Linked DNA regions of Homo sapiens. The protein of the gene in region 1 interacts with the protein of each later gene in a pairwise test. Each region holds a gene or a part of one and is shown in the gene's direction. Other genes may lie near its edges.

Region 1 (9,564 bases):
AATTCCCATTTTCCACAAAGAAGTTTTAGTACTCAGTCCCTTAAAGTTCTCTGTCTCCAAAAGCGTAGAGATCTTATTTTTGTCAAAAAGTAAGTGATGTCTACTTTGCCATTCAAGGGACCTTCACCTAAACTGGATTTATTTACATCATTAGGAAAAGTTCTCATGGAAATCTCCAATCTTAATGTCATGCAGGAAAAATTCACCTTGAGTTACTCTTGCCAGCAAAAGTAAAATCATCTGAGTGCTACAAGACAAAAAAAGTAGGGTTGGCTCAACTGGTTACCTTTCTCATCACCCACACCTTGCTCTCTCAAAGGAATTCTACAAGCTCCCACAAGAATACAGACCCTAAAAGCAAAAGGAAAAATGGTGGATGGACTTACAATTGCAAAAGATATTTCCTAGTTCAGTAAGATGGGAAGATTCGCCTATTGTTTTTTTTTTTTTAAAAAAATAGTTATTTAATTTAAAAAAATAGTAATTTAATAAATTAAATAGTTATTTAATTTAATATATTCACCTGGTTGAAAAATTTTAAAGCATAGAAAAGCAGAACCTCTGCCCCCCTTTTTCTAGTTTCTACTTCCATACCCCCAATAATCACTGCTATCTATTTCCCAAGTATCCTTTCGTAGTTTCTTTATTCTTATACAAAGAAATATGTTTCATGTGTTCTTTTTCTCCTTCTCTCTTACACAAAAGCAGCATCCAGCATTAACTGTTCTGTTGCTTTTTATTTTTAGCTGAGCAAAGGATTTTGCAGACCTTCCCATACCAGTACATACGAAACGTCCTCATTCTTTTTTTTCAAATGTGGAATATTCTATTTACTAGCTCCACTGTAATTGATTTAATATATTCTCTATAGGGACATGGAGGTCATTGATAATATTTTGCTATTACAAACAATACTATATTGAATAGAACTAGATCAATAAGATTTAATTTACTGAAAGTTTAAAGCAACAAATTACCATTACTTTCAGCACAAGTAAACTTTCTAAAACTCATTTCCAAATATAAACCTCACAAAATCTGCTTTGATGAACAAATAAGACCAATTTATAATGAGACAGTTTATTTGCATAGAATAATTAATGTTCCAAAATCCCCAATCCCAATTTGTCCTTTTAAGTGAGTATTTTGCTGCAAGTTTATTTACACTTACAATTAGGTTAGTGGGCATTTTGCCCTGGAAAATATCAGCCTAGAACAAATCTAATCATCATGAATTCTAAATTAGTAGAGTTTGGATAAGAGAACTTTTTTACCAAATTATCTAAACTGTTGTTTTAAACTCTGTACAGAGAGCTCTGGATTTCATATGTATTTCAACATTGTCAGTTTCAGTTAGAATTTTCAGGGTAGTATTCTTTTTTAAAAAATAAGGATTTGAAGGATGGGGATTATTTGAAAAATCAGTTGTATGTAAAATGCATTGTTTTTATTACTTTCTTTTCTAACAAATTAAATGAAACATCAGACTAAATTTGAGGTACATTTTAAAATAGTAAAAACATATAACATTATAGACATTTACTTGCCAAGATCAAATGTCATGATTCAATACTTATTTTCATTGTGAGCTAATGCCTTCACCTGTCTGTCTTAAGGTCAATTAATAAACAACCCACTTGCGAAGACCTAGGGATATACGTTGGTATGAAGGGCAGTGCTTCCAATAAGATTTCCCTTGAAATCTCGTTGTGAGGACAAAATACATGCATAAAAAGAACAGAAACATCAAGTTGATAATAATAACAAAAAGTTAAATAGTACTTACCATGGGCCAGACATAGGTCTGAGTGCTTTACAAACTTTAACTCATAGGTCTGAGTGCTTTACAAACATTAACTCATTAAAAGTTTGCAATAACATGGTAAGTACAATTATTATCATCCCATTTTATAGATGAAGGAATTGAGGCAAAAGTTAAATGTTGTATCTGGGGTCACACAGCTGGTAAGTGGAGAAGGCAGGATTCCAACTCAGACTGGCTATGGAGGCCACTTGTGTAACCAGCCACCACACTGCTTTGTGTATGTGGTGGCATTCACAGTAAAGGCAAAAGAGTCTAGCAAAGAAATGACCATAGTGGTCAGGGAAGGTTTTGCGGGAAGTGGGGCCTGAAACAGGCTTTTTAGAAAACAAAGGATTTAATCAATGGAGAAGACCGCATTTCAGACCTTCCCATCTCTATTGTGAGTACTTCAGAAGGACAATCTTTTGTTTTGGTTTCTCTTTTAGCACAATAAATATTCGAAGAATGGCAGAACATTGGAGGAACAAAAGTATTAGGCAAGAATGTAAATGGTTTCAGGAGTGGACATTGAGAAAACCTATTTAACTAAAGTGATGCCATCACACAGAGAAGTAGCAAGGGATCATGTCAGGAAAGTGAGTTAGGACCAGATTACAAATGCTCTGAGTACCAGGCTGTAGCCTCTGTGGTAGTGCTTCTGACACCCTAATCTTCACAGAAACCACTGGGGTCTTGTTAAATGCACATGCAGATTCAGTAGGTCTGAGGTGGGCCCAAGAGTCTGCATTTGCAGTAAGTTTGGGTGATGCTGATGTTGCTGGTCCCCAGACCACAGTTTGAGTACCAAGACTCTAGACAACAGCAAAAAACCATTTTGTGGCTGGGTTGAGGGAAAGGGATAGGGTAGTGATGGAAAGTTGTCTATGGCACCTCCCCTGAGTTGCAGCCAACGATTTGAAAGATATATAGACCTACAATATTTTATTGAATTTGTTTATAGAACCTTTTTCTATATGCCCCGTCCCTCCTTTCGGATGCAAAGCTGTCTTGCCTGAAGATATGTTTTAAACCACGTTTTTCCTCTCTTTCATACAGAGCAAGGCTAAAGAGCTACCTCTTTCTGCTGTACGCTTTATGGAAGAATTGGGTGAGTGTGCCTTTGGAAAAATCTATAAAGGCCATCTCTATCTCCCAGGCATGGACCATGCTCAGCTGGTTGCTATCAAGACCTTGAAAGACTATAACAACCCCCAGCAATGGACGGAATTTCAACAAGAAGCCTCCCTAATGGCAGAACTGCACCACCCCAATATTGTCTGCCTTCTAGGTGCCGTCACTCAGGAACAACCTGTGTGCATGCTTTTTGAGTATATTAATCAGGGGGATCTCCATGAGTTCCTCATCATGAGATCCCCACACTCTGATGTTGGCTGCAGCAGTGATGAAGATGGGACTGTGAAATCCAGCCTGGACCACGGAGATTTTCTGCACATTGCAATTCAGATTGCAGCTGGCATGGAATACCTGTCTAGTCACTTCTTTGTCCACAAGGACCTTGCAGCTCGCAATATTTTAATCGGAGAGCAACTTCATGTAAAGATTTCAGACTTGGGGCTTTCCAGAGAAATTTACTCCGCTGATTACTACAGGGTCCAGAGTAAGTCCTTGCTGCCCATTCGCTGGATGCCCCCTGAAGCCATCATGTATGGCAAATTCTCTTCTGATTCAGATATCTGGTCCTTTGGGGTTGTCTTGTGGGAGATTTTCAGTTTTGGACTCCAGCCATATTATGGATTCAGTAACCAGGAAGTGATTGAGATGGTGAGAAAACGGCAGCTCTTACCATGCTCTGAAGACTGCCCACCCAGAATGTACAGCCTCATGACAGAGTGCTGGAATGAGATTCCTTCTAGGAGACCAAGATTTAAAGATATTCACGTCCGGCTTCGGTCCTGGGAGGGACTCTCAAGTCACACAAGCTCTACTACTCCTTCAGGGGGAAATGCCACCACACAGACAACCTCCCTCAGTGCCAGCCCAGTGAGTAATCTCAGTAACCCCAGATATCCTAATTACATGTTCCCGAGCCAGGGTATTACACCACAGGGCCAGATTGCTGGTTTCATTGGCCCGCCAATACCTCAGAACCAGCGATTCATTCCCATCAATGGATACCCAATACCTCCTGGATATGCAGCGTTTCCAGCTGCCCACTACCAGCCAACAGGTCCTCCCAGAGTGATTCAGCACTGCCCACCTCCCAAGAGTCGGTCCCCAAGCAGTGCCAGTGGGTCGACTAGCACTGGCCATGTGACTAGCTTGCCCTCATCAGGATCCAATCAGGAAGCAAATATTCCTTTACTACCACACATGTCAATTCCAAATCATCCTGGTGGAATGGGTATCACCGTTTTTGGCAACAAATCTCAAAAACCCTACAAAATTGACTCAAAGCAAGCATCTTTACTAGGAGACGCCAATATTCATGGACACACCGAATCTATGATTTCTGCAGAACTGTAAAATGCACAACTTTTGTAAATGTGGTATACAGGACAAACTAGACGGCCGTAGAAAAGATTTATATTCAAATGTTTTTATTAAAGTAAGGTTCTCATTTAGCAGACATCGCAACAAGTACCTTCTGTGAAGTTTCACTGTGTCTTACCAAGCAGGACAGACACTCGGCCAGAAAAAAAAAAAAAAAAAAAAAACAAGCAAACAAAAACATTGTGGGATGTGCACTCCATTGGAGTGCATGACATGGCATTGGGATTGGAACATGTGGTTTCGAGCACTGAAAGCTGCAAACCAGTGAAGAGGAAAAGAACCTTGTGATTAAATATAAAACCAAAAGTCAAATGGTGCTTTGTGTTTTAGCCTTCAGTCACCATGACTGGTCTCTCCCCCAGATGTATATATACCATAGCATTTGTCTACCTGCTGTCTTTTCTTCAGGACAGATGTTCAGGAATTATATTGATTGAATTTAGACTCTGTGCATGTTCTTATGGAAATGATGTTCAGAATCCATGAAGAAACTTCAGGCCAAATTTGAAACCCTGGAGGGAAATGAGCCATAAGGGAAGTATAACAAGCCCTGAAGCCTTTTATGTCGTTGTGCTTCTTTGGGAAGGTGTAGAGTGTGCCTTTTTGTGAATCCTCCTCTGATCATGAGGGTCTTTCCCACAGTTTCTCACAGTGTGTTTACACTGCCCTTGGAATAACACAGCGCATCAGACCATAAGAAGGCTAGATGTGGATGCTAGAATTGATTGTTGGTTGATAGTTCTCTTTGCTGGATTAGGAATGAGGCGCCAAAGGAAGCACAGCCAGGAAAATGGCCCCACAGCCTAGATCAGCATCTGTGGGAAAGGAAAAAGGGTTCCCATGGGGACAGCCCCCATAGGAGTTTTCTGGAACCAGTAACACTGAAAAATAAGTGTGTGGCTACAGATGAGCACGCCCACCCCTTGCAACTCCCTGTTTACAAGTTGTCCGAGGCATTGGAGTGCTTATGGTCAATGGGCTCTAGGGAAGTAGGAAACTCCATCATGATACAAATGTCTAGTAATTTTAAAGTTTCTTTCCCTTTTTTTCTGTGCTGGAAATGTTCACAGATTTGATTCCCGCCCCAAGAATTACAACAATGTATTCATACAGTCAGTTGGAATCCAAAGGCAATTAATTCTATTTTGCAAAATATGATGGTCTTCCTAAAAAACAAGTACTGAGTTCTCATTTCAAAAGTTACCAAGAACTGAATTCTTTAAACTAGCAAACCGAAGTAACATGACCATTTTTGCCTTAGTGGGAGGTTTCAAATGTGCAGCTCATGGCATTTACCTGCCGACCATCTTTTGCCAAGTTTAGAATTCTTATGCGTTTCAAGTTCTATATAGAAAGTAATTTTACTTTTGATTTTTCTCTTGTTAAAAAAAAACTCCTTTATTCTAAGAACAATGTCTCAAAGTCTCATTTTTACTTTAAAGGTATAAGAGACTTCTAAAGAGACTTACGGGATATAAAAGTAATTCCTGGAAATGATATTTGATGAGGAGAATGTAAGAGAATGAAAAACACATTGATGTTTTCATTTTTAAAAAATACAACTAGCATGAGAAATCAAGAAAATATGTTTACCAAAATGCATTGCAATTTTCCCAAACCTGAGTCTTCAAATAACAAACATGAACTTATAGGTACTGTGAACTAGAAGAATTGGTTATATCCAGATTTCTGGGAGATAAATTAAAACATATTTTTGTGGCATAAATAAGCTGATTCAGAAGTTACATTTCTTAACTTTAGGTAGAGGAGAATATTTGTATCCTTTTGTTGCTATGCAACTGTTTAATGATGAAGCTTCAAACCACAATTTTGTATATCATATGACAATCAATTGTTTTCCAAGAATATTTATTATTTTAAGTACACAATTTCAGTGAATCTTGAGTTTTTCTAGGAGTCCCTTAAAGGGAAATTAGCATTCCATGAGCCAGTAAAATACCTACTCTGGTAAAACATTATTATGGTTAAAAAGTAAATTCAAGTTAGTTTTTTATAAAGAACTATAACATTTATTTTAAACATTTTATAATAACTGAAAACATTAAAGTGAGCAAATGAAATTTCAAAACCACTTGTAATAATGTATTTTATAATCGCACTGTGATACTATATAACACAGTCTCTTTTGTATTAAAATAGTATTTTTTTCACAAGCTGAAAAATATCTTTTCCTTTGTTGACAATGTTTTGTAAGATGACTTTATTTTCAGATCTTTTTCTCCTTTTTTGCACAAAACTATGCTTATGGTTTGTGTCACAGAAGTGAAAATATATCTTTGCATTTTTATATCTGGTCTGTTTTTCTTGTTTCCTTTGTTTTTAACTTGATATAGATTTTCTTCAAATATATAATGGCAATTTTCAGATATCTCACCTTACCATATCTTTCCTTATTTTCACTGCATGCATTTAATCACTGTATTACTTAATGTTTGATTTGTTATTATGGGCATTTCAAATAGGCAAGCATTGAATTGTAATGACAAAAAGGCTATTTTATATTAAGGATATATGCATTTGTATTTCACACACCAGAGATGATATTAAACACTGATTATTTTATGCTGCTGTTTATTAAAAATGTTTACTATAAAATATTATTTCCTGAATATTGCTGTCATAGAGGTATTTGGGGATTTTAACATTTACATTTTATAGAAAGAGGAATCACAATTCCTATTTGCTGTTATTTCATTAAATTTTTTTTTTTCAGTAGGCTTTTAAAACAGACTTGGGCATTATTTTGCTAGCAACCATAGGTGGAGAGGGGAATCCTAATGATTTCATAACTGAATACTATCCACCTATATATGGCAAGCTTTGAATTTTTAAAATCAAAATAATATATTGAATAGTTACAACCAATGGAATATAAAAAATATTTGATTTTAAGAATATAGTTGCATCATTTTCTGCCTTAATATTTCCATATAATCTTAGATATCAAAAGTCACCTCTTTGGACTCTAAAGAAGAAGAGGCTGTGTACATCTTATCATGCCCAACTTAGCTTCCAAACATACTGATAAAATAAATGGGGCCATTTAATTGTCACAACTTATCTTTATGACCTTATTTGCCCAAAAGAAAGAGTTCCTCATCTGGCAATTAATACACATGGTCAAGGAAAATGAGTACCATAATGAAAGTTCAAAGAAGTTGTCCATATCTGCTATTTAACACAGAAAGGAATACAATAAAACCTTTAGGGCCTTATCCATCTGTTTTAGGTACAGCTCTTGTCACCACCTCAACAATCAAACTCAATAAAGCAATCCCTTCACATGGCAGTGAGATCCGTGTCAGGCTGGGTTTCTCCCTCTCACTTGAATTCCTCAGCCTGCCTTTTACCCCCATTTCCTTCTTTTATCTCCCAGCTCTTGACCCTCCTGCCATCCCCAATCCCTTCAACTCTGAGATTCCCTTAATTCCCTAATCACCAACATCTGCAAACTCCTAGCATCACCTTCCCATAATGCCTACTACAATACTGAATAAAGAGGAGCTCTTTTATCCACACATCTTCTAAGATGATTACCTATCCCAGTACTTCTCAAAGTGTGGTTCCCAGAGCAAAGAAACAGCGGCACCCTGGAACTGGTTAGAAATGCAAATTATCAAGCCCTACTTTGAAGTACTAAATCAAGGGATCCACGGGAGATGCTAGGGGTGAAGTTCATCCTCTTAATTTAGACAGCATTTTTTTTTTTTCAGCTAATAGCTCAAATGCTAAAGAGGAAATCCTGGGGATGAGACCCAGAAATTTGTGTTTTAGCAAGCCTCACATGATTCTGATATACTCTAAAGATCAAGAACTGACTTAATTTAAAGGCACGGGGGTGGGTGATCATTACATTCTTTTGTTTGTTTGTTTGTTTGTTTGAGATGGAGTCTCACTCTGTCACCCAGGCTGGAGTCCACTGGCGCCATCTCAGCTCACTGCAAGCTCAGCCTCCCGGGTTCACGCCATTCTCCTGCCTCAGCCTCCCGAGTAGCTGGGACTATAGGCACTCACCACCGCGCCCGGCTAATTTTTTATATTTTTAGTAGAGATGGGGTTTCACCGTGTTAGCCATGATGGTCTCGATCTCCTGACCTTGTGATCTGCCCGCCTCAGCCTCCCAAAGTGCTGGGATTACAGGCATGAGACACCGCGCCAGGCCGATCATTACATTCTTAGTAATGTGCACGTAAGCATTTAATAACATTTTAGCCCCTTTATTCCCCTTTAAAGAAAATCAAGTTTTACTGTAAAATTCAGCACTAAAAGCTGTTTGTGTTAGCCATTTGACAATTAGCTATATTTTTTGAAGTTGTTCCCTTGGATAGAAAACTGACAACATGTAGTCTTTGTCAAGAAGATATTCCTCATCCAGTTCACCTGAGACCTAAATTCTTGGATAGTGGCCAAATGCTTTTTCCTTCATATGGACAAACTCAAAGAAGTTGGTCTCTTAGTACGCGTTTTTTTGACCCATGAACTGATGATTGACAAAACAAAACAAAACAAAAATCCCTTCTATGTTGCAACTTAACAAAGATAAGGTCAAGGATAGGCTGGTCTTTGGGAGGAGGGATAGGCTCAGCCCTAGTAAGCATCAAGCAGGAAGCTGCTGCAGGGGCTCCCCTCCCTCCCTTGCACTTCCTGTGATGCCCTGACCCAGCTGGCTGGATGCAGACACCTGTGGCTTGTTCTGCTGTTTTCCTTGGCCAGCTGGAATCCATCATCAGTCCCTGGCTGGCCATGAGTGCTCTTCTGCCCGGACTTTGCTCTCCTCTGCCTTTAAAGGGCTGAAAGCTCTGAGGAAGGACAGAAAGAGGGATCCAAGGGAGGTTCTGGGGTGCAGTTCATACTCTTCTTAATTTATACGCATTTTTTTCAGCCAATAGCTCTAATGCTAAAGAGGAAGTGCCAGATTAGCGGAGAAAGAACAAGGGAGCACACACAAGAAAGGGTTTTTGCAGCCAAAATATGACTGCATTGAAGTTTGTTACCGTAAATGCCAATGGTAATAGGACGCTGTTAGCTCAAGAAAAGGAGAGTCTTACAAACCATCAAAGCACTCAAGGTCAATGTAATCCTCTGGGAAATTAGGCTGGGAAGGCTTAAAAATATAGACATATAGAGGGAGAAGGTCTGCTGACATATTTATGACTAGTTGAATCTTAAGCACGTATGAATTGCTTACTCACAAATGAGTACCATAACATTTGCTGACCGGGATTGGC
Region 2 (11,554 bases), on another chromosome or scaffold:
TCCCACCCCAGATCTTTATCATGCTTTCTCTCACCTAAAACGTGTGTTATTACAGGCCCCCACTTTAGGCCTTCCAAACCCCCTAAGACCTTTTAATCTGTATTTACACAGTTCTCATAATCAGGCCCTTGGTCTATTAGCCCAACTCATGGCAAACTCCCTCCAACCAGTGGTATATTTTCAAAACAACTAGACCCCATTTATAAAACCTGGCCCCCTTGCTTAAACATTTTGGTCACAACAGCAGCAATAATTATTCCTGAGGCACAAAATCTCATGTTTTATGAACCTCTTCAGGTATTTTCTTCTCACAGTCTACAAGATATGCTCAGCCACAAGGTGCTCACCTCCAGCTCATCCTCTCGCAGGCAAGCCCTACTTTCAACTCTCCTTCAACCCTCTATATCTCTTCATAGATGCTCCCTGACTAACCCCGCCACTCTTTACCTTCAACACCAATTTTAGACCCCGACCAACACTCATGCTCTGATCTAACTGGAAGTTCTCTATGTATCACCGCCTTACTTGCACTCACATAAAAGGAGACCCAGATTGGTTTATAGATGGGAGCACATCAAAACACTCTCCCCTCTAAGCAGGATATGCCATCATTGAAAGGATATCATGATGATACCCACTCTCTCCCACCTAGAAAGCCATAGAGGCTGCCCCCTTGCCTTTGGGCACATCCTCCCAACAAGCAGAATTAGTTGCCCTAATAAGAGCACTAACTCTAGCAGAAAACACACAAGTGAATATATACACTGATTCTAAATATGCCTGTAACGTTATCCATTCCAATGCCCAAATTTTGAGTGAGCAGGGCTATCTCATAGCTAAGGGAACCCCTATCATTAATGGAAAACTCATCCATCATCTATTAAAGGCAGCTATACTTCCAGAAAAGGTTGTGGTTATCCATTGCAAAGGACATCAATCAGACAAAAGCCACATTCCTTTAGGGAACCATGAGGCTGACTATTGGGCCAAACACGCCTCAGCCAACGACCCAATTCCCCAATACTTATTTCCCCTCACACAACATATGCCCTCCTTTTATCCAGAACACCAAACACAACAACCAATCACAGTAGGGGCAGACAATTTAAACCCCCATACTGGTTCATACAAAACAAATTAGTCCTACTTGACCCTGAAAAAACAATTTCTTCTATGGGACATTCACAACCTCTTCCACACTAGCCATTCCCCTCTACAGCATTTCTTAAGTTCCCATATATACATAACCCCAGACATAAAGGAACAGTTAAAAGCCATTTCCCATCAATGCTCTGTTTGCAAAAAAGCTTCACCCCACTTCAACACTAGACCCTCTTCTTTTCTAACCCATCAATCCAAGGGACACCTTCCAGAACAGGACTGGCAAATTGGTTTTACCCACATGCCCCCAGTAAAAAGGGTTTGATTTCTTTTAGTTCTGGTTGATACCTTTTTGGTACGGGTCGAGGCCTTTCCCACAACCAACAAACGAGCTCCTACTCTCCAAATTAATAACAGAAATCATCCCCAGGTTCGGGGTGCCTCTTTCTTTTCAATCTGATAATGGCCCTGAATTCATTTCTCAAATTATTCAAACACTTGCACAAGCCCTACAAATCACCTGGAAGTTGCACCTCCCCTCTCGACCTCAATCTTCAGGAAAGGTTGAAGAAATGAATGGCATTCTACAAAAACACCCTCACCAGGTACTCACACCAAACACATAAAGACTGGGTTACACTTTTGCCTTTAGCCCTTCTAAAAATTCGGGTGCTCCAATGTAAACTTCTAACGCTCAGCACCTTTGAACTCATGTATGGGAGACCATTTGCCCCTCTGCTCCACCTCAGGGTCAAGCCCCACCTCCACCAATCCCTCTCATTTCCCCTCTTGTACATACCATCTGCCATTTCATTTAGGAATATGCTGACAAATACCTGCCACAACCCATCACCGACTCCTTTAATCCCTCCCTACAGCCAGGAGACTGGGTTCTGGTAAAATACCCCAGTCCTACCCTCAATTCCTGCTTCACACCTAAGTGGAAGGGACCTTACCAGATCATCCTTACCACACCCACAGCACCGAAACTCCAGGGACTCCCCAGCTGGTTTCATTGTACTTCTCTCAAGAAAACAGACTTCCCTTCACCACATACCCAAACAACCAAGTCTGAAACCCCTTCGGCCTTCTCTCGTGTCTCCCAGGACCCACTTCTCTTCGCCTCACCCAAATCCCTGAGGAAAAGGAGGAGAAATCCACATAAGCCGCTTATGTCTCTTTCTCTCCCAAACTTTCATCACTTCCTAACTAACCTTGTTACAGACCTTCAGTGGTGCCCTTAGGAAGCTCCCATTATACATCCTGATCAGCTCGTTACTGCTCTATGGGACCTATGGCTTCAAGGAACTTTCCAGGACTTTACTCCTACCCAAATAACTTTTTTCGCTTTTTGCTTGTTTCTTTCAATATAAATTCCCTAATCACATCAACCTCATCAATACAACCACTCCTCACTGCTCTCAAACTAGAACGCTCTATAAACCTTACACAATCTCTCTTGCGGCAAGCTAACTCTTCCTTTGCTCTGGAATGCTGGGTGTGTTTATCGCTGTCTTCCTTAGCTTACACAGCCCTTCCTACATTCCTTCATGACCTTTTAACAGGAAACACAACCCTAATTTATAAACTCCAAAAAGGAGCTTCCTTTTTTGAAAGAGCTGACACTCTAGTCGGTGATTATCCCACTTCCAGGGCCGATCAGGCCAACAAATTATTTCAAACCTAGGATAACTCCCTACAGCGCCTTAAGCCCCACGGCCCTCCCATTGAAGGGCCCATAACTAAACACACTCCTCCTCTTATAATGAGCCTCACTTTGCTTTTCAGCCTCGGAGGGAAATTTCCCTGTAGGGTCCTTAACATCTAACCTATGCAACCACACTATCATTGTTAAACACCCCTCTGACCATCAAACTAACCAGGCTAACTACCAAGTATCACCTGAAGCGAACGGAGCATTTCTGCAGCTGGCTCGTTTGACAGCCTTTCCCTCAGCCAATGCCTCCAGCCTAACCTGTGCTGCTCCTAGTGCCCACAATTTTCCTTGGCTCAATATCAATAGTGCAGCATCCGACCGCATTAAATCTGTAAAAAATAACTCTTCCTATACCTCTAGTATAGTAGGTGTCTCCCAGGCCTCCTCCTTGTCCACCTGGAGTAATGAACCACAGGAAAGAACAAACACCTCATCTTTAATTCACTTATTTTCTGTCCATATCTCTGCTTGTATTTACAATAAAGGCTTGTTCTTTTTGTGTGGTCTCAACACATATTTCTTTGTCTCCCCATCAACCAGACCAGAACCTGTACCCTAGTTTATCTTTCTCCCTCCATTGGACTAGTTCCTCCTAATCAATCTTTACCCGTTCCATCCATCCAATATGTTAGGAAGAGGAGAGCCATCCACGTCATTCCTTTAATGGCTGCCTTAGGTATAACCTCCGGGCTTGGGTTGGGAGCAGGCTGATTCGCCACCTGCTTAACATACTTGAAATCTCTTTCAACAGAACTGCAGAGTTCATTAGAGCATATGGCCCAAAGCCTTATAAGAGTCCAAGGCCAACTAGACTCCTTGGCTGGAGTAGACTCCTTGGCTGGAGTAGTCCTCCAAAATAGACAGGAATTAGATGTTATAACAACTGAAAGAGGGGACCTCTGCCTCTCATTCGGTAAAAAATGTTGCTTCTATCTCAATCAGTTGGGCCTAGTAAGAGACGCTGCTAAAAAACTTAAAGAAAGGGCTAAAAAGCTAAGAGAATAACAAGACAACCAAATAAATTACTGGTTTAAAAACAAAGTCCTAATATGGGTCATCCCATTCCTGGGCTCTCTCCTAAAAATATGCCTAGGAATAATGTTCTTACCCTGCTTAATTAACCTTTTTCTAAGTTTTTTTTATTTTTTTGAGACGGAGTCTTGCTCAGTCGCCCAGGCTGGAGTGCAGTGGCGAGATCTCGGCTCACTGCAAGCTCCGCCTCCTGGGTTCACACCATTCTCCTGCCTCAGCCTCCCAAGTAGCTGGGACTACAGGCACCCGCCACCATGCCTGGCTATTTTTTTTTTTTTTTTGTATTTTTAGTAGAGACGGGGTTTCACCATGTTAGCCAGGATGGTCTCGATCTCCTGACCTCGTGACCCACCCGCCTTGGCCTCCCAAAGTGCTGGGATTACACGCGTGAGCCACCGCGCCTGGCCACCTTTTTCAAAGATTTTTAACCAGCAGGATCATGGCCATCTCACAGACAATTACCCAAAAACATCTACAGACAGCGTTACTCCTACAATCAATCTGAAACCAAAGAACTCTCTGCTCACTCCCCCAGCAGGAAGTAGCCAGAAAAAATGCGCTGCCCCTTGTCCTTTTCATAACTATAGAGACTGGATTGATAGAGCAGGAGCATTGCCATCTTGGACAAACACCACCTTTCTAAGTTCCCCTTGATTAAAAAACCACCTAAATCCTACCCCAAAACATCAGCCTAACGGCTAATGTCAGCATAACCAGAAATATTCCAACCCTAAGATAAACCTCTCTTCAACCAGAAACATGCTAACCCTGAAATAACCTCTCCTCCAATAGCCTCCCCTCCGACCAGAGACATTCCAACCCTGCAATAAACGTTCCCCCACTTCCAAAACCCTTAAATATCCTTAGTCTGTAAGAGAGAATGCTTAGTCTGTAAGAGAGAGCGCTCCTGATCGAAATTGGCCAGAATCCCCTCTCAGGTTTATTCTCTGAAATAAACCTTTTAATGTTGAGCCGCTTTTTGTATTTATTTCCTCTTTCTTTAACGGTTACAAGCATTGTTACTTGAGTGTTTCTGCTGTAATGGAGGAGGCAGCATGAATATCTCAAACGGTTGCTAGTGAGAAGCCACGCAGATGAGAGGCATGAAGCCTTGTTGGGCTCCCTCCATGTCCTACAGCCAGAGAGCGTCAGAAATACATCTGCCCCAGAATGAACTGGGCTGAAAACTCTTTGCATGGAGGGAGACCACATAACCTGGGGAACTTGGGTAAACGATGTTGGAACGGAGGTGTAAGATTTGGGTTTGTGTTAGTTGATTTGGGGAAACATTTATGGAAACGGGCCTTTGCTCCGGATTGGATGTCAGGAAGAGGAGGATTCCATGATTGGATATCTTGATGAAGCTTATCTAGACGGCAGGAGGACGAGACAAAGGCTAAACATGTAATGGTAAAGAAGCAGCAATCACTCTTATTGGCCAAGACGAGGGGAATGTGGTCACTTTTGTGGCTTGGACAGTGTTCCTGTTTTGTCTGTGTTCACACTTGATTACACAGTGGTCTGTTTTTTTCTCTTGATCTGTATCACGGCCTGATGTTGGTGTTTTATGAAATTGTTCACATTCAAAGAGAACACCCAGGCCTAGCTGTTTGTGCCAGACCAACCCCAAGTCCTGGCTGCAGAACCAGGCCAGCTCCCCGATGTCAGTGGCCGCCTTTCTCTTTACAGGCATGGAGGGGGACACCATTAAGGAGGAGCCCCTCTTCTCCGCTCCCCACAGACACCAGTGGGTGCAGACAAGTCAGGGAATGCCTCCTTTCCCTCCGGCATCTTTTGAGGTTTCCGTCCTGACGCCCAGGGCCGCTCCATCCAAGCCTCGGTTTCTCAGTCTCTAAAACAGGCCAGAAACCAGGCACGCCGTGGTGAAAGGACGAGCCGAAGAGATGGCAAGAGCTCCAGAAAGCCTTCCCAGGCATCAGGGGCTGCCCTTGAGCTCAGACGTTTCTCTCTGGACAGGGCTTCTTGGACAGGAACTCAACGAAACTTGACAGAAATCGGACACCCCCAGCCAAGGAAAAGCAGGAGGGGCCCGGGGTTCGCCAAGGCGGGAAACACCGCGGGGCCCAGACGGCGCCGTCCGCCCGGCTCGCAGTCGGGGCGCGGGAGGGGCCCACGCGCATGCGCACCGCCCCGCCCCCAGCCGCCCCGCCCAGCCCGCGCGCAGCCCTCTGGGGCGGCCGGGCCACGCCGCGCGCCGATTGGTGGCGTCCGGGACTCTCCCTGCAGGTGACTGACGGCGCCGGCCGCCCCTGCCCGTCGCCCGCCCGCTGCTGCCGCCCGCCCGGGGTGTGGAGCCCGGCCGCTGCTCGCGGGCTGAGTGTCTGTCGCTGCTGCCGCCTCCACCCAGCCTCCGCCATGGACCTCTTCGGGGACCTGCCGGAGCCCGAGCGCTCGCCGCGCCCGGCTGCCGGTAAGCGGCGTTGCCGCCGGGCCGGCCAGGGAAGGGAGAGCAGGCGGGATGGGGGCGGCCTGAGGCCCGGGGCGGCTGAGGCGGCGCCCGCGCTGGGAGGCGGCGGGCGGCGCGGGCTGCACGGGGCCTGCTCCTGCCTGGCCAGGCCCCGTCCGGCCCACTGGCGGCCCTGTCGGAGGCCCGGTCGCTCGCGGAGCTCGGAGAGGCCGCTCCGCCATTTTCGCTACGCAGGAAGGAAAGGGCCGAGCCGTCGTGGCCACGGCCCCTCTGCGTGGCGGTGAAAGGCGCCGGCGCGACCGCGTGGGCCGACCCGAGGGACCGGCTCTGAACGCCCGGCGGCACCGCGGGCCCCCGCGCCCCGATTCCACCCGCGGCCTGGGCTGCCTTGCGCGTCGCCCGCCCGCGGCTTCCGGGCCGCACTTCACCCGCGGGCTGTGGAACGGCCGCGTTCCGGGCCGGTGCAAGTTCAGGGGCTTGGCGTTTTTATTTGCACTGGAGATTGAATTAATCACCATCTTAATCCTTCGTGTTTTTGAAGCCTGGAAGACAGGATGCCTCCTCTGTCATCCTGTGATTTTGTGATAATTAACAGTAGTTTTTTTTTTTTTTTTCTGGTCCACGGGAAGTTCCCCCTCTCCTTGAAGTTAAGGGGTCCGCTCATCTCCTAAGCGCTGGCCCCTGCCAGTGGGAGTCCCTGTGGGCTGTGGTTTGAGCTCAGCATCCTAGCAGCTTGAAACAGGGCCTGTGTTAATCCCTGCGTCCTGTGGGTTACAGTCTCCGGGTTTCATCTGTCAAAACGCGTGAATATTTCATATGCAAGACTTCCAGCTTGATGTTGTAGTTTAGGGCCTTATTACAAAATTTAACTTGGGGGCAGAAAACCTGGAAAACTTAAGACGTTCAGATTTCCAGGCCCACCTCAGCCCCAGTAAATCCGAATCCCTGAGAGTGGGGTTTCCGAATCTGTTACTAAATCCCCAGGCCAACCCAGCGGGGGCTGGAGACCAGTGGTTTGGGAGCTGCTGTTGTAGGGTAGACGGAGGTGAGTAAGGCCCAGCCTTCGCTTTCTAAGAGCTGCTTTCTGAAGGGTACTAATTACGGTAATTAAAACTGGCAAAAGTTAATGACTGTGGGAAATGCTGAGGACTCTTGAGGAGGGATTGTCGGGCACCGAGAGACTGGGGAAGGAGGCAGTGTTTGAATTGAGCTTCCAAGGATGTTCAGGCTTGTGATTTGCAGTAATTCTGGGCGAGAAAACATTTTATTTTATTTTACTTTTTGAGACGGAGTCTCACTCTTGTCGCCCAGGCTGGAGTGCAATGGTGAGATCTGAGCTCACTGCAACCTCCGGGTTCAAACAATTCTCCTGCCTAGGCCTCCCTACTAGCTGAGATTACAGGCGCCGACCACCACACCCGGCTAATTTTTATATTTTTAGTAGAGACGGGGTTTCACCATGTTGGGTAGGGTGGTCTTGAACTCCTGACCTCAGGTGATCCGCCCGCCTCGGCCTCCCAAATTGCTGGGATTACAGGTGTGAGCCACCGTGCCCTGCCCCCACTGACCGTTCTGATGGTACAGAGCATCTCAGTAACTGGTCCTGGAGTCTTTGAACTTGACTCAGCCATTCATTTTCAAAATAACCACGGTTTTAGCTGTGGGTAAAAATTGGATTTGTGTAGCAGTCTTTTTTCTCTTGTCAATGGAGTATAATTTCTATCTGAATATATTTGGGACAGCATTTGGATTCACCAGTGTGCGTGTAAACCTATGAGTCTTAAAATCTCCATTGCTTTTTACCTGCAATTAATTAGGTTCTGCTCAGGAGCAGGCTCCCTTGACTGACAAAAAACCTGGCAACTCAGAATCTCATAGGTTGGCACCTTAGCAGCCTTTTGCCAGATACAGTGGGAAAGGTACATCCTGTTGCCGTTTTTTCCAAACTCAGTTTCCAACCTTGACTGAGCTGAAAGGGTGGCAGAGGGGGTGCATGGTGTTTAAACTGCTGACCACCCTGAGATTGGATTGGTCAGCTGCTCCCCATCTGCCAGGAGGGCACTGACATTGTCAACAGGTCCTGCTTGGCTGAGTGTATTTTTAAAAATAGCTTTAAAACGAAGAAGATCTCAGAATTTGTAGATGATTGGAAGCTGAGAGGGATAAGTACTAAAATGAGTGACAATTGGGATCCATAGTTATCATTGCAGGCTGTTAGCTACAACCAACAAGATGAGATTTGACAGGTTAAAATCGTTTGTACAAGAACAGAATCTGGTTTCACATACTTGTGAAAATACTGTGATTTAAAAAAAAAAAACATACTTTGAATAAATCATATTGATTGCTAAAGTGAATGGAATAATGAGTCTAAACTGTGCATCATGACCCTCACACATGATATGTGGGTACCACAAATCTCTAATGCAGTGAACAATAAAAGACCTCGTTATTTTCCCAGAGCGCAAGAAAAGTTGTTCAGAAAGTGTAACCAGACTACTTGGTTTAGAATCCAGCTCTTCGCTTACTAACTGTGCCTTCTGTGGCTATTCCTACATGTGTAAAAAGGGGTGACACTTGCCACTGTTACTGTACAAATTAGTACAGTATGTATGGTGCTGCACATAGTGTGGGGTAGAATGTATAGTGTTTTATAGATGTTAGCCAGGGTTATTATTTTTGAGACAGCCTCATTGTGTCGCCCAGGCTGGAGTGCAGTGACATAAACACAGCTCACTGCAGTCTCGACCTCCGTGGGCACAGGTGATTCTTCCACCTCAGCCTCCTTGGTAGCTGGGACTACAGGTGCGCACCACCACAGCCAGCTAATTTTTGTATGTTTTGTAGAGACAAGGCTTTGCCATGTTGCCCAGGCTGCTCTCGAACTCCTGGGGCTCAAGTGTTCTGCCCACCTTGGCCCTCCCAGAGTGCTGGGATTACAGTGGTAAGCCACTGTGCCTGGCTGAGCCATTAACAGTTGTTTAAAAGTGGAAAAACGCAGTCTTAAATGAATTATGGGAAAGCACTGAGTGTCCAAAGGGAGAATACTACACTGCTTATATCACATCAAATGTATTAATATTTTGTTTAGATCTTTTTATTTTTGTTTTAAACGTTGCATCTAATGTTCCCACCCCTAAACCTCTTAAATGTTTATAATCTAGAAAAATACATAGAATGCACTAAATATTTCAGGTATTTTGCTAAATTAGTAGTTTTCATCCAAGCCCTTAAAAGTTTTAATTGCTGAATGAATCAAGTTTTTTAAAGGAGAGATGTATATATTTTACCTAAAAAAAAGTGTTTGTTCATATCAGGCAGAAATGGAACTTTCCTATGTCATACCCATAAAAGTGCCGACCTGATGTCTTTAAGATTGGCAGCTTATATTGACAATCCATGTATGTCAGTTGAAGGTGTCATGGTTTAAAATTGCTTCGCCAGTAACTTGATTTCACTTTTATAGGGTGGTTCTTTTACTTATTTGGTTGCTACACTAGTACTTTAAAAATTGATGGTCAGTTGTTGAGGAGGAAATAAAATATTTGATGGCCACACCATCTTAAAAATACTTTAAAAAAATTGGAGGCTGGGCTCGATGGCGCATACTTGTAATCCCAGCGCTTTGGGGGAACAAGGCAGGAGGATGGCTTGAGGCCAGGAATTTGAGAAGAGCCTGGCACAACTTCGTGAGACCCCTGTCTCTACGATTAAAAAAAAAAAAGAAGAATATTTGAACATAAAGGTTAAGGTATTAGAGGAAAACAGATTGTAAAACTACAGGGTTGAACAAGAAAAAAGTCATAAAAAAGTGAATTTGACTATGTAAAAATTTAAAATTTCTGCAGGACAAATGATACTATAAAGGCAAAAGACAAACCGAGAAAATAATTGCAATATACATTACTAAGGGTATAAGAAAGGCTCACAGAATTGATGGGAAAAAATAAAACCCACTAGAAAAATGGTCAAAGGATGTATCCTCCCAGTTCAGAGGTAAGGAATACAAATGGCCCATCAACAGAAAGTTGCTGAGGAACTATTTACCTTTTCACCCATCAGATTAGCAACAGTTGGTAACATTGGTGAATGTGTAGCGAAGTAGACTTTCTCATAAAGTGTTTTGGGAGTGAAAATTACAACTTTTTGGGGAACAGATTTTGGCTTCTATCAGATTTAAACTAATATCCTTTGACGAGCAGTCTAGCAGATTAAGCAGGAATACATGTATCAGATTGTTGATTGTGGCGTCACTTATCATATGAAGAACTGGGAAAAGCTTGAACCCATCAGTAAGGATCTGGTCGAATGAGTGGAGATGCTTCCCATGTGTGGCTGTTGGAGAGGATGAATTAGACTTGGGTGTGTTGGCCTGGAGCATGCCTTGATGGGTTATGTGAACACTATATGTGGAGTATTGTGTAGAGTATGACTCTGTCTTCTACAAATTAAAATGCATGAGTCCATGTGCATGAGCATTAAGGAAAGTGGAAAGGATACACTAAACTCATACTGTGGTTGGGGGGTGTGGCGGAACCTGTCCCCCCTTTTTTCTGATAATACCTCTGTGGTGTTTGGAAAACACCTGGATTTATTTTATAGTTGAAAAAATTGAGGTATAAAAAACAATTTAGCCAAAATATTTTAACATCCTTTTTTAACTTTATTGGATACAGCAACCTTTAACCTGAATATGATCAACCCAAGGGTATTTTTCTCAGCATAGTATATAACTTCCAGTAGACTTAGCTCCAGAATGTAGATAACTGAGGAAAAAAAAAAGTTCTAGATGAGATTAACTATGATTAATGGACATTTTTAGTCTTGTATTCTTATTAGGGTTCTAATATTTTTAAGATTAGGGGAGGGGCCTCTTCCAGATTTTTAGGTCAGGGTCACACTTTGTCCAATGATTGCAGCCCCCAATGCTTTGAATTTCAGTTTATTCAAAATAGAATGTAAGGGCCTGGAGCAGTGGGTCACATCTGTAATCCCAGCACTTTGGGATGCTGAGGCAGGAAGATTGCTTGAGTACAGTAGTTCGTGACCAACCTGGGCAACATAGTGAGACCCCGTCTCTACAAAAAGTTAAAAAATTAGCTGGGCATGGTGGTGTATGCCTGTAGTTTCAGCTACTCGGGAATCTGACGAGGGAGGATTGCTTGAGCCCAGAAGGTTGGGGCTGCAGTGAGCTGTGATCACACCACTGCACTCCAACCTGGCTCACAGAGCGAGACTCTTGTCTCAATTTAAAAAAAAAAAAATCTAAGGTTTTG
Region 3 (11,427 bases), on another chromosome or scaffold:
GCCCAGACAGGTGGATCACTTGAGGTCAGGTGTTTGAGACCAGCCTTGCCAACATGGTAAAATCCCGTCTCTATTAAAAATATAAAAATTAGCCAGGTGTGGTGACACATGCCTGTAATCCCAGCTACTAGGGAGGCTGAGTCAGGAGAATCTCTAGAACCTGGGAGGTGGAGGTTACAGTGAACCAAGAGTGCACCACTGCACTCCAGCCTGGGCAAGAGTGAGACTCTGTCTCAAAAAAACCAAAGAACAAAAAAAGAAAATGCTGTGTAGGAAATGGCATTGAGACAAACCTTGAAGGATGAAGAGAGAGCTAAAGAGGCATTCCAGATAAATGGTCTTCACAAATAAAAGTACAATGTGGGGACTATCAGGGTGTCGTCTGGAGCAGGCAGAACGGGGAGTGGGGACCACTGGAAGGCCACTGGAAGCCACCATGATGACAGTCACTGGAAATGATGAGTCCTAGGCTGAGCACTTTATATCCTCACGCCAGACCTTGGAGGTAGGTTCCCTTACTACTGCAACATTCTTTCAGATAAGGAAACGGAGGCTCAAGGAGGTGACAAGGCCACACGGCTGACTGGTGGTAGATACAGCACCTAAGCCAGGTCCTTCTGATGCCTCCCCCACACCTCCTTACCACTGGAATGCCAGGCAGTGGCATTACTGGGGCCTTCCCATCTAAGGTACCACTGTCCCGGCACACCTCACCTAGCATGTCACCTCAGACAAGTGGGCACCGAGAGGTCAATCTTCACCTTAACCATGGAAGCTAGCTTGATCCTGCCTTTTTGAGGTAAGCATCCATGGGACTATCAGGACCTCCTTCACCAGAATAGAGGGGACGCATGGGGAAGGAATATGAGGATTGCTGAGGATTTGTTATGCCCTGCTGTCTGCTGGTCTCTGTCTATTGTTTTACAGTCATGTAGCCTGGCTATTTTCTAGTTCTCCTCTGATCACACTAGTGTCATCGTGGCCCTGGGGCAGATCCCTTTGCCAGTACTAGAGTGGCTGGTCTTTCTTGGGAGACTGGAGTTTCAACTATTCCTGGTATACACAAATGTTATCCAAGTACTGGTGGATGTTCATGGATTCCCGTCTCCAGTGCCCCAGCTTTCTGAGCTGGTCTGTCATAAAGTTTTTATCAGGTGGTCTGATCTTCATTAGTGGCTGATCTCCTTATTGCTCTTCTCTAAAGCTCTCTCCACACTATATTCATTCCATAAATACTTTGACTCACAGGGAGTCTATTTATTTGTAAAAAGTGGGCATTAAGCTAGGTAACTCCAAGGCCCAGCGCAGTGGCTCACACCTGTAATCTCAACACTTCGGGAAGCCAAGGAGGGCAGATCACTTGAGGTCAGGAGTTTGAGACCAGCCTGGCCAACATGGTGAAACTCCGTCTCTACTAAAAATACAAAAATTAGCCAGGCGTGGTAGCGCACGCCTGTAGTCCCAGCTACTCGGGAGGCTGAGGCAGGAGAATCACTTGAACCCAGGAGGCAGAGGCTGCAGTGAGTTGAGATCACGCTGCTGCACTCCAACCCGGGTGACAGGGAGACTTTGTCTCAAAAAAAAATAAATAAAAAATAAAAAAATAAAAAAAAGTAAAAGGAAGCTTCTGGACAGCTGAAAGTTGGCACAGCCCTCAGGTATACATAAAGCCAACTCAGGAGCTTCCAGTTAAGAGTAGTTCACAGTTCCTTGCCCCACCTAAGGTGTACGACATTCCCCACCCAGTTGGCCCCGAACCTATCGTGGGCCACTCAGAATACCCCACACCACCTGGCCACAGTGATTAAAACAGGGATGGGCCCATGAACCAACTGGGGCCAACTGGAGTCCTTCCTCAGGATTTGTCTAACTGGAGCAGCAGTGGAAGTACTTCTTGTGGTCTACAGGCCAAGGTTTCCTGTGGCTCTGCTCCCCAGGTTCAGCCAGCCTGATAATGATACTGGTGTTCAGAAAGCCACAAAGGGCTGGGCACGGTGGCATATGCCTGTAATCCCAGCACTTTGGGAAGCAGAGGAGGGCAGATCACTTGAGCCCAGGAGTTTGAGACCAGCCTGGGCAATGTGGTGAAACCTCATCTCTACTAAAAATTCAAAAAATTAGCCAGGCATGGTGGCATATGCCTGTAATCCCAGCTACCTGGGAGGCTGAGGTGGGAGGACTGCTTGAACCCAAGAGGTTGAAGCTACAGTGAGCCTCATGCTACTGGCCTCCAGCCTGGGCAAGAGTGAGACCGTGTCTCAAACAGACGAGACGGGATGGGACGGGACGAGACGAGACACAATATAAAGACAATGAAGACAGAATGGAAGACATACCTGGTGGTAGTACAGCCCCTGGCTTCTCTCCCCTAAAACATTGGCGACTGTGCCCTATCCATCCTTGATTATGTAAACCCAACTTCTCTATTTTGCTTGAACTAGTTCAAGTTCAGTTTATATTACCTGCCACTGAGAGGATCTTAATAGATCCTATTTTTACAAATGAGAAAGCAGAGTCTGGAGGAAGTGTGATTCACCCAAGGTCACACAAAGCTGGCCTGCCCATCTAGTTCCACTACATCCCACCATTGGAAGTTTAGCAGAGGCAGAAATGCCCAGGTCTCTGCTCTGCTTTTGTCTTTGTGACCTTCAAGAGGATCTGGCACCATCTCTTAAGGATCTCCAACTGTTTTTGATGTTAGAATCCTGTGGGCCCATCCAGACTTGACCCTGGAACATGGAGAGAAGTCAACAGAGTCAAGAAGGGGCAGAAGCTCAACCCTGGGCTTCCTGCTCTGTTTGAAAAAATGAGTATGTTATTGGTGTCCATCTTTTTCATGTGTCTCTTCCTAGCACCCAACACAGTAGCTGTCCCAAGCAGGCCCTAAGGACAGGTTTAATGAGTTCATCAATTAGGGTCTATGGGAACAGTAGGTGACAGCACTCAGGCTTTTGAGTAAGCCTGAGTCAAACTCTTACCTGTCCATAAGCAAAAAGTGGGAGAAGAGCCTCAGTTCTCATCTGGAAAATGGGGATAATCCCCAAAGGAAAAAACTGACAAGATGCTGTTAATGCTGATTCAAACTCTAGGACCCAAGACCTTAGTTTTTTGGGGGTTTTATTTATTTATTTTTGCTTGTTTGTTTTTTTGTTTTTGTTTTTTTTTTTGAGACGGAGTCTTGCTCTGTTGCCCAGGCTGGAGTACTATCACAGCTCACTGCAACCTTCACCACCCGGTTCAAGCAATGCTCATGTCTCAGCCTCTCATGTAGCTGGTATTACAGGCACCCACCACCATGCCCAGATCAGTTTTGTATTTTTAGTAGAGACGGGGCTTCGCCACATTGACTAGGCTGATTTCAAACTCCTAACCTCAAGTGACCGTCCTGCCTCCCACAAAGTGCTGGGATTACAGGCATGAGCCACCGCGCCCAGCCTAGAACCCAAGACTTTGTATGGGAGAAAATAAGAATCCATTCATGGGTTCCCTAGAGAGATAATGTGCTTTCAGGAAAAACAAAAACAAAAACAAAACCAAGAGACATGGAGTCTTTCTAGCCTCCTTAGCCTAGGAACAGGTGTGACACCTTGGGCAAGTCAGTAACCCTGAGTGTGAATTGCCTCCTCTGTAAAACGGGGCCTGCCTTAGAGCACCTTGGGGACTTCCTATCACCTTTATGATCCCCCAGGATATAGAGAGAATGAAATGAATATGGGTCAAGCCACTAACACCCTCTAATGCAAAAGCTTGTGGCTACTTTACCTGCACCTCATGGAGTCGTTGTGCTATGAGCTTGTCATAAAAACCCACCCAAGATAAACTGCTCTTTTTATATGAGTAAAAAATTTTTCACTGCTGCTTCACTGGAATCATTAAGCTGGAGCGGGGAGGGAAAGGTGACACAGGTTACAGATGGCTGAGGCCAGGGCCAGAGCAGATTTGACAGGGTCCTGGGGGAGTGGCTGAGGCTTCCCCGGGTATCTTAGGACAAGTGCAGCTCTGTTACAATTTTCAGAGAAGCAAGGGAGTAACCACAGTTTCTTCTTGTGGAAAGATATGCTAAAGGGGTGTTTCATGGACACCCAGAAGAAAAGCAATTCTGTGTTTGTAAAAGGGCCCCAGTGCAGTCCACAAGAGAAGGGTTATCAGGAACTCAGAACCATCTTCCAAAGCAGTCTTTTGTTTTTTTGAGATGGAGTTTCATTCTGTCTCCCAGGCTGGAATGCAGTGGCACAATCTCGGCTCACTGCAACCTCCACCTCCCGGGTTCAAGCGATTCTCCTGCCTCAGCCTCCCGAGCAGCTAGGATTACAGGCATGCGCCACCACACCTGGCTAATTTTTGTATTTTTAGTAGAGACGGGGTTTCACCATGTTGGCCAGGCTAGTCTCGAACTCCTGACCTCAAGAGATATGCCTGCCTTGGGCTCCCAAAGTGGTAGGATTACATGCGTGAGAGCCACCATGCCCACCCAGCCAAAAGCAGTCATCTTGATGATCCTTCTTAAGGATGAAATGGGAGAGAGGGGTCTTAGAGGGGAGGAGTAAAAGTTGTAGAGTAGGGTTCGAAGGATGAATTTGAGAGGTGTTTAGCTTGGGGAGCACTTGCTCTAGACCCTGTGCCTAAAGGGGATCTGGGAGGCGGGGGCTTGGGGGAGTATAGATCAGAGCAGGGAGAAATAAAAGTAAGAGTTTGGACAGATGTTAGGCTGGTTAATAGGGGAATTCCAGAAGAAGGTTTGGGGAAAATTTAGAATAGGGAGGTGTGGGGTGGACAGGGGTTTTAGGAGACTCTGAAAGGTGAGGTGAAACATGGGGTGGGGTGGGGTAGAATGGAGCTAGGTACTCCAGGTGAAAATATAACAATCTGGTCAAAATGAGGAAATGCTGAAGAGTGGATATACTTCTAAGCACTGCATTTTCACTTTTTGATAATTTGGTTACACCATGAAGTAGTCTTACAAATAAATACCTTTAAATGGTTTTGCCCATTTAAAAATAATTCTTCAGGATCAGGCACAGTGGCTGAGGCCTATAATCCCAGCACTTTGGGAGGCCAAGGTGGGCAGATCACTTGAGGTCAGGAGTTCGAGACCAGCCTGGCCAACATGGTGAAACCCCATCTCTACTAAAAATACAAAAATTAGCCGGGTGTAGTGGTGAGCACCTGTAATCCCAGCTAATCAGGAGGCTAAGGCAGGAGAATCACTGGAACCCAGGAGGCAGAGGTTGCAGTGAGCCAAGACTGTGCCACTGCACTCGGGCCTGGGCCACAGAGCTAGACTCTGTCTCAAAAAAAAAATTGTTCATATTTTCTTTCTAAAATGCGGAAACAAAATCTACAGTATGGAAGCAATTGAATAAATTTTGGTATGTCATAAAATAAAATACATGTAATTGTGTATGAAACATAGACGGGTGGTATATTAGATGGGAGAAAAAAGCAGGTTACTAAAAAGTGAACTTTTGTGATGTATCTTTTTTAAGTATAAGCATGTTGTAACATATATATATATATATATATATATATATATGAATGGATTCTGATCAAAATACACCAAAATGTTAACAGTGATTGTCCCTAGCCACTTATGCTGCTGGCCTGTCTTGTCTTCTTTTTATTTCTTCGAGACGGGGTCTCACTCTGTCCCCCAGGTTGGAGAGTAGTGGCACAATCTCAGCTCACTGCAACCTCCACATCCCAGGCTCAAGTGATCCTCCCACCTCAGCCTCCTGAGTAACTGGGACCACAGGTGAGCCACCAAGCCCGGCTAATTTTTTGTATTTTTGGTAGAGATGGGGTTTCACCCTGTTGCCCAGGCTGGTCTCGAACTCCTGAGCTCAGGTGATCCAACTGCCTCAGCGTTTCAAAGTGAAGTGGTGGGAATACAAGCGTGAGCCACCATGCCTGTCCTCATTTTTCTATAAGTGTACACTACTTTTATAATTGGGTCAAAAAAGACAACTGTAGAAGGATAAAAAATATTGAAGGACTAGTTTTTCTAATGCATTTTCAGCCTATTTGGAACTGGAGTGTTGTGAATGTTTTCATATTTACAAACTAGTATGAACAATCCAACTTCTCAATCTCTCATTTACATTTTTCTGACCTCTATGCATAGCCTAGGTGTGAGGTGATGGAAAAAGCTGGTTTAGAGATCAAGATGCTCAAACACAAAAGTCCCCCAAATCCTGAGAGTTTTTTGTTTTTTTAAAAAAATCCTTAAAACATTTAAAGACGCATAAAACTCTTCACCCACTCAGTGGTGCAAAAAATTTACCAATACTAGAAGGGGAGGAGGCTGGCAACGACTGGAAATATTCCCTTTCAAGTAATAAATAATGGTTATTTTGAACCAAATTGCTTTCCACCTCAAGTCCTCCATGGATGGGAGCCTGGAGGATGCAGTGATGGGGGTTATGGAATGGAAAGGAGCGTGGGTAATTGGGTTTGTGAGGATTGGGGCCAGGCAGAGGGAACTGGGGGCTTTTCCAGGACCACTGGGGAACACAGAGGCTGAGAAGGGGAGTGTGGGATGGGTTCGAGCTGGGGAGGACCTCGGCCTCGCCAGGCTCTAAGGAGAGTCACAGCTCACCACCTAGGGCGCTGGGACCACACGATGTCATGCCTGGGAGACTGAAGGGCTAGGACAGATTCTGAGAAAATGTGGACTGGAGATGGGGATTCCAGGTTCTCCCGGGAGTCCAGGCGAGGGAGTTCCGGCTTCAGGGAGTCCCAAGAGCTAGACTGGGAAGGGGCTGGTGCCCAGGACTATGAGAAATCCAGACTCCCCTGGGGTGTGAAAAAGGGCCGAGGTCCGGCTGAGGGAGAGCGAGTCTGAAAGAGTTCGGGCTCCCTTGCGGGTCCGAGAGTCTAACGAAGGCTCTGGGCACCCAGGCCGCACCTGAAGAGCACCAACGACTGCTCGGTCCGCGGCGCGGGAAGGAGATGTGCGGCTGAACCCCTACGCCGATTACTTAGCGGCGGCCCTATCGAGAGGGTGGTTCGAGCCCGAGGTGGCGCCGGTCCCGTAAATCGTGGAGGATCTCAGGTCCCCTGTGACCAAGGGCGTAGTCAGCTGTGTCATGGCGGCTTCCCTGTTCGAGAAACAGTTGGAAACTGGAGGCCGGTTGGGAGTCATGGTCGTTGGGCGCACGGAGGCCGGTTGGAAGCCATGGTCGTTGGGCGCCAGGAGGCCGGTTGAGAGCCGTGCTCGTTGGACGCGCGCAGACCTGGAGTTAGTCCCTGGGCGGAACCTGGAGCCCCGCGCGGCGCGTTGCCTGGGAGACGCATAAGGGGGCGGGGCCGGGGAGGGAGTGTCGCACATGCGCACAGAGCCCGGGCGGCTACGGAAGCGGTGAGACTGTCTCTCGGCTGCAGCCCTGGTGCGACCCGGCCCGTTGCCGTAGAGATGGGCAGGGCTGGATGGAGTGGGGTGCGGTGAGCTGAGCTGACCCTGCTTCGCCACGGGGACTGCAGTGACCCCGGCTTGCCGGCAGGGCGGGTAACAGGTTGAGCCAGGGTGGGGCTGCTCAGGGGCGTGGAGCCGAGGCCAGGATTTCTCTGAAGACCCGGCACAGGCTATTCCTTTCTGCGACGAGCCCATTGCTATGGAAACCAAAGCGTTAGGCCAGCGGGGATTGAGGCTGCGGGATCATGACGGGTCTCTCTCCCGAAGAACCTTGCCTAAGGCTTCCCCAAGCGGCTACTTCCTGAGCGAACCCGCCCACCCGCCTGAAGGAGAGAGGTAAAACCCTGGGGGTCCTGACACTAAGCAGGCGAAGAAGCCTATTCCAATGCCAGCTCCCCTAGGAAACCTACCCGGCCCACCCCTAGAAGTGATGCTTCGCTCTCGTTAACTCTTGGACTTTGTTCCATGTTTATAACTTAGTATTTCACGAACGCCCCGCGGTGTTTGTTCATTTTTCCCACACATAATGGACCATAAAGGTCGGCTTCTTTGCTTTATGACTCGTTCTGAACAAGTCCTTTTCCGCGCTGTGTCTCACTTTCCTCTTTTGTAAAATGGAAATATTAACTCTAGACGCCGGTCTGATTAGGTTGCTTTGAAGATCGAACCAGATGAGGGAAGCCAAATACTTCATAGGCTGTAAAGTGGTGAAGCTGAACTGCTACCGAGTTGCTATTTTTTTCTCCTCCTCCCTCTCAAGCTAAACGTTCTTTAGATCTTTTGTGATTTCTTCAGGTGGTCTTTGCGACTCCCTAGGCTCCGACCTGGAAGAAATCTTTTTTACACTTCCCTTTCACAGAGCCCTGCATTTTAACTTCCCTATCAGAAGCGAGAAAAATAGTTATCATTTTGAGAGGGCTTACTCTATGCCAAGCCCTGAGAAAACTCTTTACGTGGATTATCTCGTTTAATTTCACAACATCCTTTTAAGGTAGGTACTGTTATCCTATTTTCAAGCTCTGTCTGCCTGTAATTGCCTGTTTACTATCTGTTTCTCCCACTAGTCTTTGAGCTCCCTGAGAAAAGGGGCCATGCCTGTCTTGTACATTTCAGTATCTCCAACACCTAATACAGTGCCTGATAGAGATTGCTTTTTTTTTTTTTTTTTTTTTTTTTGAGATGGAGTCTCACGCTGTCTCCCAGGCTGGAGTGCAGTGGCACGATCTTGGCTCACTGCAGCCTCCGCCTCCCGGGTTCAAGCAATTCTCCCGTCTCAGCCTCCTGAGTAGCTGGGACTACAGGCCCATGCCACCACGCCTGGCTAATTTTTGTATTTTTAGTAGAGACGGGGGTTTCACCATGTTGGTCAGGCTGGTCTTGAACTCCTGACCTCAGGTGATCTGCCCGCCTCGGCCTTCCAAAGTGCTGGGATTATAGGCTTAAGCCACCGTGCCCAGCCCTGATAGATATTTCTTAACTAGCATGAAAATGACTCCTCGCATCACTACCCTCACCTGCAAGAGCATTGTCACTTCTGCAGACTTTTAGTGGCTATAATGAACAGCACATTCCTCTATTCCCGTTACCCACTGGGCACTGGTTTGGGGGGACATCAGTTCACTTCTCTATGGATTTTCTGATGACGAGGATCCAGAACATTCCTTAGCATTTAGACTTCCATCTGGGTTCAGGAGGCTTTTTCTTTGCCCTTCATATCACCTCTGTAGCAAGCCAGCCCTCTCTGTCCTTCCGGGAATGAGCCTGATGCATTTGAGTCTGGGGCATTGGCAGGTAGGATTTGCCTATACAACCTTTGGTCTTTCTCTTTAGTAGCCTCAGAACCACCCCCATCCCCACCCAGCCCCTCCCTGGAATTCTGGAGACACGCTGCCAGAGAACTCATTCTTTCCAGAAAACCTCTCAGAAGGCAGAGTCATAGCTGTTGGGAGTCATTTCTTCATTCAACAAATATTTATCAAGCACCTACTTGTGGGGACACAGCGCTTGGCACTAGTTGGTGATAGAGTGGGAGTGAAGACAGACACCATCATATCCCTAAAGGGCTCACAGTCTCTTGGGGAGACAGACATTAATCAAATAATCAGACAGATCGGAGCAAAACTACGTCTTCAGTAAGTGTTAGGAAGGAGAGAACATAGGGCTAAGAAAGCCTGGAGCAGAGTTGGTCAAACGTGAGGGAGGGGTGTGATCTAAGGAGATTTCCCTTAAAACAGTTACCTTTAAGTTGATATCTTAAGGCTCCTCAGACTTCTGCAGTCCTCTGCTGAATGGACCAGATCAGGATCTGATGGGTTCATAAGGAAAGAGACTGAGAGATCAGCAGGGGCAAAGGCCACTGGCTGGAGAGGACAGGTTGTCCCTAAGGAACTGTAAGTGGCTCGGTTCACCTGAGGCCCTTCAGAGCATGGAGAAGCCTAATAAGAGGCTGGAGAGACAGGCAGGAGCCAGGTCACAAATGGCCTTGACAGCCAAACTAAGTGGCTCCATCTTATCCTCACAGTGGATAGCCACTGAAATATATTAAGCAGGGAAACAAAACTTTGGCTCCTCATTTCTCGTGCCTGGTGAAGACTGCCACTTGGCCTTGAAAGGTGTGATCTAAATCCAAATGTCCCTATTTCAGCGGAATGTATAAAGATGTCCTGGTTTTTGCAGCTTTGTTTAAGACTGAGAAAGTGAGGGTCCGAGAGTCTAATGAATGCTCTGGGCACCCAGGCCGCACCTGAGGAGCACCGACGACTGCACGGTCTGCGGCGCGGGAAGCAGATCTGCGGCTGAACCTCTACCCCAATTACTTAGCGGCGACTGAGCCTATCGAGCAGGTGAAGGGAAGGGGTCTGCCTCTCCCTGGGGTGTGTTTCACAGCTCTGCTGCAGGCAGCATGATGCAGGTGTGGCAGGTCTTCCTAAGGCCCTGCTGTCTCTGTGCTTGTCCCTGGGGTTGCTGTGGTGCCCATTATGCTGGCTTCCAGGAAGCTTTCAGCCACTCCCTTTCCCAGGCCTTCTTCAGAGGCAAGGTGCAGGAGCATGTCTAACAATTTAGGACTTTGTATTTGACATCAGCTTCGCATGGGCATATCCTGTCTCTTTAAAGAGATGGTTCTTAGAGGGGGAAAATGGGAACCCTCCCTACTCTTATACCAGCCTCCTCAGTGACTGCCAGCACAGTGGGCTCTGGTTCCATGCCACTGGCTCAGGACCTTATGATTTGGGCATAAAGTCAGAAGACTGAGGAGGAAGACTGTACAAATGGTTCCCACTCAGAGGGGCTGGAAGGAAGGAGAGAATTTGGAAGAGCAGCAAGAAAAGGGCTCTGTGAGCTTAAATGGAGAATCAGGCCAAGGCACAGCTGAGGGACACAAGTCATCTGCCCAACTAGAGCTGTGGGACCCCTCAAGGGAGGCCTCAAGTGCCAGACTTGGGGACTTGCCATTTGTCCTATAGGGCAGTGCACATTAGACCACCTGAGAAGCATGCTGAAAATGCAGATTCATGCTCTTCACCCCGAGAGTCTGACTGTGGGTTTGGAGAGGGACCTGGGTATCTGTACTTTAAATGAGTTTGCTGGGTAGTTCTGCTGTGATGGTCAGAGGACTGCCTTGGGGAATGCTATAAGCCTATCCATCCATTTCCCAGGGATCCCCTGGAATTGGCCCTCTGGGCACCTGCCCTCTAAACATCCTCTCCCTCTCTGCAGTTTTCCATGGACACAGCCTAGCAGAAAGACGCAGCCTTCGTGCTTCGCTGACTGCTGACCACTGACCCACCGCCTTGATGACAGCACCCTCGTGTGCCTTCCCAGTTCAGTTCCGGCAGCCCTCAGTCAGCGGCCTCTCGCAGATAACCAAAAGCCTGTATATCAGCAATGGTGTGGCCGCCAACAACAAGCTCATGCTGTCTAGCAACCAGATCACCATGGTCATCAATGTCTCAGTGGAGGTAGTGAACACCTTGTATGAGGATATCCAGTACATGCAGGTACCTGTGGCTGACTCC

Evidence for each region.
Region 2: the proteins of ROR1 (region 1) and ILKAP interact in a two-hybrid assay, tested with the Homo sapiens proteins (one study listed by BioGRID and IntAct).
Region 3: the proteins of ROR1 (region 1) and DUSP18 interact in a two-hybrid assay, tested with the Homo sapiens proteins (one study listed by BioGRID and IntAct).

Annotation. Positions count from the first base shown.
Region 1 is NC_000001.11:64,174,568-64,184,131, forward strand, and holds the end of ROR1 (inactive tyrosine-protein kinase transmembrane receptor ROR1 isoform 1 precursor), read left to right. Parts: intron 1-2,860; coding exon 2,861-4,288; 3' UTR 4,289-6,931; downstream 6,932-9,564. UniProt on the Homo sapiens protein: Has very low kinase activity in vitro and is unlikely to function as a tyrosine kinase in vivo. Receptor for ligand WNT5A which activate downstream NFkB signaling pathway and may result in the inhibition of WNT3A-mediated signaling.
Region 2 is NC_000002.12:238,198,226-238,209,779, reverse strand, and holds the start of ILKAP (integrin-linked kinase-associated serine/threonine phosphatase 2C), read left to right. Parts: upstream 1-6,084; 5' UTR 6,085-6,226; coding exon 6,227-6,281; intron 6,282-11,554. UniProt on the Homo sapiens protein: Protein phosphatase that may play a role in regulation of cell cycle progression via dephosphorylation of its substrates whose appropriate phosphorylation states might be crucial for cell proliferation.
Region 3 is NC_000022.11:30,663,782-30,675,208, reverse strand, and holds the start of DUSP18 (dual specificity protein phosphatase 18), read left to right. Parts: upstream 1-7,333; 5' UTR 7,334-7,747; intron 7,748-8,270; exon of another isoform or gene 8,271-8,402; intron 8,403-9,649; exon of another isoform or gene 9,650-9,651; coding exon of another isoform or gene 9,652-9,716; intron 9,717-10,087; exon of another isoform or gene 10,088-10,254; intron 10,255-11,128; 5' UTR 11,129-11,205; coding exon 11,206-11,427. UniProt on the Homo sapiens protein: Can dephosphorylate single and diphosphorylated synthetic MAPK peptides, with preference for the phosphotyrosine and diphosphorylated forms over phosphothreonine. In vitro, dephosphorylates p-nitrophenyl phosphate (pNPP).